Linked DNA regions of Homo sapiens: regions 1 and 3 are each linked to region 2. The links come from fine-mapping of genetic effects on gene expression. A gene starts in region 2. Each other region holds a variant in brackets. All regions are shown on one strand. Distances are from middle to middle.

Evidence for each region. PIP is the estimated chance that this variant, and not a neighbour inherited with it, causes the effect.
Region 1: its variant is fine-mapped to the expression of FGFR4 in cerebellar hemisphere (GTEx, PIP 0.91).
Region 3: its variant is fine-mapped to the expression of FGFR4 in whole blood (INTERVAL, PIP 0.92).

Annotation. Positions count from the first base shown.
Region 1 is chr5:177,050,074-177,052,832 of GRCh38, reverse strand. ZNF346 (zinc finger protein 346) reads right to left here. Exons shown (of 7, transcript NM_012279.4): 5 at 1,897-2,082. Among named protein-coding and RNA genes, the nearest start is that of ZNF346, 29 kb to the right of the region's middle. The variant G/A (reference allele first, on the strand shown) is at 1,307.
Region 2 is chr5:177,085,231-177,087,989 of GRCh38, reverse strand. It overlaps FGFR4 (fibroblast growth factor receptor 4), which reads right to left and starts at 1,075. Exons shown (of 18, transcript NM_213647.3): 1 at 913-1,075. RefSeq lists an enhancer at 559-1,009, silencers at 705-1,164, 1,415-1,464 and a promoter at 975-1,194.
Region 3 is chr5:177,001,341-177,004,069 of GRCh38, reverse strand. All of the region lies in intron 1 of UIMC1 (ubiquitin interaction motif containing 1), which reads left to right. Among named protein-coding and RNA genes, the nearest start is that of UIMC1, 4.1 kb to the left of the region's middle. The variant A/G (reference allele first, on the strand shown) is at 1,173.

The sequences.
Region 1 (2,759 bases), 35 kb after region 2:
AACATCTATTGCTTTCACACCATCGTAAAGTTGAAAAAAATCATAAAGCTGAACCATAGGAAGTTGGGGACCATGTGTACGTGTAGTTTTAGTAGTTTTTCTTAGTACCAGTATCTCCTTAACATAACCACAACCAAAGAATGGGGGAGGCAAAACTTTAATGTAGGGGTCTAAATTCTGCTGATAGGAAGCAACCTTTTCTCTCTCAGGGGTTCACCTTTGTGGAGGTACAAAGTAAGAACTATCAGAACATGAGATTCTGATCTAATCCGCTAAGGGTCCTTGGCCCAAATCTGGCTTGCAGACAGGTCTGACTTACACAGGGTTTAAAAATAGTTTTTTTTTTTTTTGGCTGGGCTTGGTGGCTAATGCCTCTAATCCCACCACTTTGGGAGGTCATGGCGGGTGGATCACTTGAGGTCAGGAGTTCGAGACCAACCTGGCCAACACGGTGAAACTCTTGTCTCTACTAAAAATACAAAAAAAATTAGCCGGAAATTAGCCATGTGGGGTGGCACATAACTGTAATCCCAGCTACTCAGGAGGCTGAGGCATAAGAATCGCTTGAACACAGGAGGCAGACGTTGCAGTGAGGTGAGATGGTGTCATTGTACTCCAGCCTGGGAGACAGAGTGAGACTGTCTCAAAAAAAAAAAAAAATTGTTTTTTTGATACATGTTCTCGCTCTCACTCAGGTTGGAATACAGTGGCACAATCATATCTCACTTTAGCCTTGACCTCCTGGGCTCAAGTTATCCTCCCACCTCAGCCTTCCCAAGGTGCTGGGACTACAGACATGCGCCACATGCCCAGCTAATATTTAAAATTTTTAGTAGAGATGGGATCTCACCATGTTGGCCAGGCTGGTCTTGAACTCTTAGGCTCAAGTGATCCTCCTACCTTGGCATCCCAAAGTGTTTGGATTACAGCATAAGCCACTATGCCTGGCTGGGCTTAAAAATTTTTTAATTTAGTTACACATTTAAAAATCAGAGGGGCCGGGTGCAGTGGCTCACGCCTGTAATCTCAGCACTTTGGGAGGCCGAGGCGGACGGATCACGAGGTCAGGAAATCGAGACCATCCTGCCCAACATGGTGAAACCTTGTCTCTACTAAAAATACAAAAATTAGCCGGGCGTGGTGGTGTGTGCCTGTAGCCCCAGCTACTCGGGAGGCTGAGGCAGGAAAATCGCTTGAACCCAGGAGGTGGAGGCTGCAGTGAGCTGAGATTGCGCCGCTGCACTCCAGCCTGGGTGACAGAGGGAGACTCCATCTCAAAAAACACAAACGCAAAAACAAAAACAGA[G/A]GGATTTCTATATAAATCTGGCTTTCCAGAGTCTTTTGAAAACCTGAAAGAGGGCTGGGCGCGGTGGCTCACGCCTGTAATTCTAGCACTTTGGGAGGCCGAGGTGGGCGGATCACAAGGTCAGGAGATCGAGACCATCCTGGCTAACATGGTGAAACCCCGTCTCTACTAAAAATACAAAAAAATTAGCTGGGCATGGTGTCAGGCACCTGTAGTCCCAGCTACTCAGGAGGCTGAGGCAGAAGGATGGCATGAACCTGGGAGGTGGAGCTTGCAGTAAGCCGAGATCGCGCCACTGCACTCCAGCCTGGGTGACAGAGCAAGACTCTGTCTCAAAAAAAAAAAAAAAAAAAAAAGAAAAGAAAACCTGAAAGATATGGTAACAGCTGAGTAGGAATGGCATTCACTCTTCAGCTGACCATATCCCCTTCCTGGCTCTCATTTTAATTTCTCATCTGGCTTCTGTAGCCATCTGAGTTCGCAAACCCTACTTACAAGACCTAAGGAGGAAAAGCACAACGTCAGCTGGTCCGGGTAGCCCCAGTGGCCAAACCCTGGTCCAGCTCTGGGTGTGAGCTAGGCCCCCTCACCTGGAAAGTCAGTGACAGCAGGGTCCGCCAGCCGCCCATAGCGTGCCATTAGTTTGAGCTTGGTCTCCTGTTTTCTGTGTTTCTTGCCCACATAATGTTGTTGAGCCATGACAGGGTCGTTGAAAGTTGCATGGCAGAGGCTGCAGAACTTGTCTGGGTCTATCATCTCTCTATTCTGGTGCAAGGCTAAGGTGGAGGCCACAAGGAAAGGATTTGTAAGGCGTTTTGACAGAGCTGCAGTGAGAGAGTTCAAACAGAAACAATGAAAAAACCCAGAAGGTGTCAGGCTTTTGAGTATGCTGAATAGAAAGGGCTGTGACACCAGTTAATCCTACTGCAGATGTGGCACTGCCTGTGTGAGTCACACAGGTGAATGCATTCTCTAATTGGGAAACCTGGGAAGATTTGAGGGAGCCCAAAGACTGGCTATTTCATTCAGCGGCTTTAACTACTTTAAGCCCACAAATCCTGGTGGTTCTCATATTCTTAGGAGGCCCTGAGCTTCTCCTGTCAGGCTGCCAAGTTACAATAGACTAGAGATGCACACTTGCACTCTTGCAGGGATACCTCAGTACTTCCCAGAACTTCACAGCAAGTGGGACACGAAGTTTGGGAGTTTTATTCTCATCCTTAAAGTAATACAGTTGCAGAGCTGGGAACAAATGCACAGATACAGAAATTGAGGCTTGAGTTCCTGGAGCTCATACAAGGTCATTCAGAAAAGGTAACCATACTAGGGATGCCTTTTAGGCTACATTGCATATTATAGGCTGAGTAGAGAGAAAAGAGGACCATTAACATTTAGTTATGCGTTTTGCTCACATCTGTAATCCTAGCACTTCAGGAGGCCAAGGCAGGCGGAT
Region 2 (2,759 bases):
CTTGCAAGCCCTTAATGGCTACCTGTGCCCAGCAGGATCCAGCTCAACATCCTAGGGCTCCCTCTCTGCCGCTGCCTATCTCTTTGGTCACACCGTCTGCCCCTTCAGGAGCGCTGAAGCCATTGGCTTTCAAAACTGGGCACATGTGCTCTCTTGCCCATCCCTCTGTGCCCCTCATTGCTCTTCTCTACCTGACTCAGATACTGCTGTCTCTGGCCCACCTCAACTCTCGAATCCAGTCGGATCCTCCTTGGTAAAACTCCCTACCAAGCTCGGCTTGGCAGGGAGGGCAGCTCTTTGGGTACACAGCTTGGGCTGGGAGTGGGTGGGGAGGCCCGGGGAGTTTATTCCTACCCCAGGCTGCCCTGATATCAGAGTCCTTAGTCGAGTCACCCATGGCTGCTGACCGCTGACCGACCACCCCCCACGTGGGAATGGAGGGCCTGCCTTAGGCATCAGACAGTCCTGGGTTCTCCTTCAGCCTCCCGCACTCGCGCTGGAGGCCCCCGGGCACTAAGTGACTGAACTTTTCGGGGCCTCAGGTCCCTCATCTCTGCCGCCGGCGCGAAGACAGCCGCAGGGACAAGCGCGCTTGTCCTCCCCCACCCTTGCCGGGCCAGCCTGGGGGGAGGTGCGAATCAATGGGTCCCGAGGGTAGCTGCACAGGGCCAGCCTGCCCCCGCCTCGGTGGGCAATGAGTAACCAGCTCCGCGGCCGGGGTGCTCTTTGGACGGAGCGGGACAAAAGGCCCTGTGTGCACTGCGGGTTACTGATTTACCGCCCCCTCCACCCCCTGCCGCCCGGCGGACGCCCAGGTCCCCTGCGCCGGGAGGGGCAGTCCCCGTAGCCCCGCCGCCTCTCGCCCCCTGGCGGCTGGGAGCGCAGCCCGGGCCCACAAGGGTTCCGGCTCACCTCGAGCCTGCGTGACTCCGCGCCCAGCACAGGGTCCTGCTCACCTGGCTCCTCCTCACCTGGCTCCTCCGCCGCCTCACTCCCAGCTCCAGCCGGCCGCGACCCCTGCACGCGGCAGGGTCCGCAGACAGCCCGAGCGCTCCTCGGCCGGGAGCGAGGAATGTACCCGCGACGGCGGCGTGGCCGCGAGCGGCCCACCTCCTGTCCCACCCCGCCCCTCGGGCCCGCCCCCTCCTGCTCGGGCCCGCCCCTCCTTCCACGCCCCCCCCCCCCCCACCCGGGCCCGCCCACCTCCTGCCACACCCCCTCGGGCCCGCCCCGCCTAGACCAGCTCGAGCCGGAGAGAGGTGTGGCCAGGGGTGGCCAAGATCCCCGCCCACCTGGAGAGCCCCGCCCCCGACCCAGTCAGCCCACTCCCGGGACCCCGCCCCAGCCTATACACACACCCCTACACGCAACCCCCCTATACACACCCCATTCAGGCTCCGCCTCTTTCGCCCCACCCAGGCCCCAGGCCAGGCTCCTAAATTCTAGTCTACTACCCAGCTCTACTCCTTGCTTTTCACCCTTCAGGGAATGCCTGGCTCCCCTGTCTTCTGCGCAGTGCCGTGCAGCGGATAGGAGAACCCCTTCCTTCTGCTCCCTCATTTGTTCCCTGCGCAACCTGCGGAGTGATACTTACAACACAAATCTGACTGTGTCAGCCACTCCCTTAAATTTTCCTATAGATTCCCATAGCTCTTTATACATAGATTGCCATGACCCACGCCTCCTGGCTCCCACCCTGCTACTCCTGGGCAGTTTCACGTACCATTCTCTCTTCCTGGAATGGCCCTTGGTCTGGTTAATTTCATATTATTCTCAGCTCACTTCCTTCAGGAAGCCCTCTGGACTTGCAAGCTCCTCTTAGATGACGTCTCTACTGTGAGGATGGAGAAAGAAACAGGGTGAAGTGGTTCAGAGCACAGACTACAGGGCTGGACGTCATAGGCCCAGCTCTCAGCACCATCACACAAGGCCTCAGTCTTCACTGTCCTTTCAGTAAAACAGGCAAATGATAGTCTCACCCACAAGAGGTTGTTGCAAAAAGTAGACATGTTAGCAGTATGTGTAAGCCTGGCATGCAGCGCTTGCTTTGTAATACTAGCTGTAATTATTTAGGACCTGTTATTTCTTCAGCACGCTTGCCAGAATTGTAACTGAACAGTTAATTATGTAAATAGCTGTGGAATGGCCGGGCACAATGACGGGTGCCTGTAGTTCTAGTTACTAGGAGACTGAGGTAGGAGGACAGCTTGAATTCAGGAGTGTGAGGCCAGCCCTGGCAACATAGTTGCCCTGTCTCTATTTTTCAGTAGAGGAACTGTGTCCTCAGACCTCACCATTAGAGTTCAAGTGTCTGGCATACAGTAGGTGCTCCCAGATAGCTCCGTGCCCACCTGGCTCATGTTTGCCTCACCTGTAAGCACTTCTCTCCTGAGCATCTAGACTGTGGCCAAACCAGGAGGCCAGGCAGCCTCTGATCTCTGCCCATCCCTCACCTGAATCTCAAGCCTTCTCCTTCTCTTAAGGCACCTTGAGAGGAAGGGAAATGGGCTGGGTGCACCTGTGGTCCCAGCTACTTGGGAGGCTGAGGCCAGAGGATTGCTTGAGCCCAGGAAGTCGAGGCAGCAGTGAGCCGTGATCGCTCCACTGCACTGTAGCCTGGGCAACAGGCTATGGAGCGAGACCCTGTCTGAGGCTCAGGTCCTGGTTGTCCCCTCTAGCTAGTGTAGACCCTGTCTTAAGAAGCAACTTCCTTTCTCATTGTTACGCAGGCAAGTCTAGTTCTTTCCACCCTCACTCCC
Region 3 (2,729 bases), 84 kb after region 2:
TTGCTTGCACCCAGGAGCTCAAGACCAGCTTGGATAACGTGGTGAAACCCAGTCTCTACAAAAAATACAAAAAATTAGCTGGGCTTGTTGGCACATGTCTGTAGTCCCAGCTGCCCAGGAGGCTCTGGTGGGAGAATTGCCTGATCCTGGGAAGTCGAGGCTGCAGTGAGCTATTATCATGCCACTGCACTCCATCACAGAGTGAGGCCTTGTCTCAGTAACAATACACGTGCACACACGGTACAGGAAACATTTAAATAGGATGGAAACTACTCTGTGTGAGAGGTTTTCCCAGTGCATTACGCTTCTCCAGTCTTCCCCCATACTCATCTCTGCTGCCAAGTACTACTCATGCTATACTCTTAGATTTAAGGATTACCTTAAGTTTTTTGTTTGTTTGTTTGTTTGTTTGTTTTTGAGACAGAGTCTCATTCTGTCGCCCAAGCTGGAGTGCAGTGGCGCAGTCTTGGCTCACTGCAATCTCTGCTTCCCGGGTTCAAGTGATTCTCCTGCCTCAGCCTCCTGAGTAGCTGGGATCACAGGCGCGCACCACCATGCCCGGGTAATTTTTGTATTTTTAGTAGAGACGGGGTTTCACCCTGTTGGTCAGGCTGGTCTTGAACTCCTGTCCTCGTGATCTGCCTGCCTCGGCCTCCCAGAGTGCTGGGATTACAGGCGTGAACCACCGCGCCCGGCCTACCTTAAGTTTTATATCCTCCATACAACTTTTTTCAGCCATATCCTTTTATATTACAATTACTACTCAAAGTATGTTTGAATTCTGTTGTTACACACCTGTCTCAAATTGAGACTGAGTATAAACTGGGATATAAAATATCAAGGGTGTGTGTTTATATGTGTGTGTGTGTGGGTATGCATTTACCTATTTTTTAAAATTATAGAAATAAGCTCATTGTAATTAGTTGATAAAGTGCTTCGTGGCACTTTAATTTTTTTTACCTTTAATTTTATCCTGTGCGTTAAATGCATATATAGCATTTAATAATTTAAATATACACTTTGTGCTCTTTATTCACTCAGCAAATATTTATAGGTGCGTATCCTGTATCAAGCAGCAGTTTTAGTTAGAGGAGATATAAGTCATGGAAATTGGAGTCCAGTTTTCATGTCAGGAGACAAAAGTGCAAGTGCCTACTGTGTTTGGGCAAGTT[A/G]CTTTTCTGAACCTGTGTTTCCTCATAATGATATATTCTGGTTTCTTAGGATTTATTGAAATATTCACTCATCAAATATTTATTATTATTATTATTATTTTTGAGACAGAGTCTCGTTCTGTCCTGAGCTGGAGTGCAGTGGCACGATCTCCGCTCACTGCAAGCTCCGCCTCCTGGGTTCATGCCATTCTCCTGCCTCAGCCTCTCAAGCTGGGACTACAGGCGCGTGCCACTACGCCCGGTTGATTCTTTGTATTTTTAGTAGAGACGGGGTTTCACCGTGTTAGCCAGGATGGTCTCGATTTCCTGACCTCGTGATCCACCTGCCTCGGCCTCCCAAAGTGCTGGGATTACAGGCGTGAGCCACCGTGCCCAGCCATATTTATTATTTTTAAAAACTTTTTATTAAGATATCATTTATATACAGTAGAGTGAACCCGTCTTAATTGTACAGTTCAATGTGTACACCCGTGTAAGTACCACCAAGGTATGGAACATTTTCAGAAGGCTCCCTTGTGTCTTTCCCAATCAGTACCCTCCAGAGGTAACCGATGTTCTGACTTGGATCACCAGAGGTTAATTGTTTTATTTTTTATTTTTATTTTTTTGGGAAAAGGTCTCACTGTCACCAGTCTGGAGTGCAGTGGTGCAATCATAGCTCACCACAACCTCGAACTCCTGGGCTCGAGATCCCTTCTCCTCAGCCTTCTGAGTAGCTGGGACTACAGGTGCACGCCACTATGCCCAGCTAATTTTTTTTTTTTTGTTTTTTTTTTTTTGAGACAGTCTTACTGTTGCTCAGGCTGGAATGCAGTGGTGCGCTCTCGGCTCACTGCAACCTCTCCCTTCTGGGTTCAAGCGATTCTCGTGCCTCAGCCTCCCAAGTAGCTGGGATTACAGGTATGTGCCACCATGTCTGGCTGATTTTTTTTTTTTTTTTTTTTTTGGGAAACAGAGTCTCGCTCTGTCGCCCAGGCTGGAGTGCAGTGGTGTGATCTCAGCTCACTGCAAGCTCCGCCTCCCGGGTTCACACCATTCTCCTGCCTCAGCCTCCCAAGTAGCTGGGACTGCAGGCGCCTGCTACCTCGCCCCACTAATGTTTTGTATTTTTTTTTTTTTTTTAGTAGAGCCGGGTTTTCACTGTGTTAGCCAGGATGGTCTCGATCTCCTGACCTTGTGATCCGCCCCCCCTCAGCCTCCCAAAATGCTGGGATTACAGGCGTGAGCCACTGCACCTGGCCCTCAGTTTATTCTTTGTCAAGATTGTTTAAACTGTTCTGGGGCCCATGCCTTTCTATATACATTTAGAATAAGCTTGTTTATGTCTACTAAAAGTCTTAGTGGGATTCTTATAGGAATTGCATTAAACCTAAGATAACGTTCTGTGCTCCCAAAGGTTGAAGAAAAAAAACAACAACCTAGGATCAGTTTGGGGAGAATTGATATGTTTACTATGTTGAAGCTTCCAACCTGTGGGCATGGTATGTCTCTACTTATTTAGATCTTTGATTTCTTTCACTAGTTATTCAAAAAACAAAACCCCATAAAACAACTTAC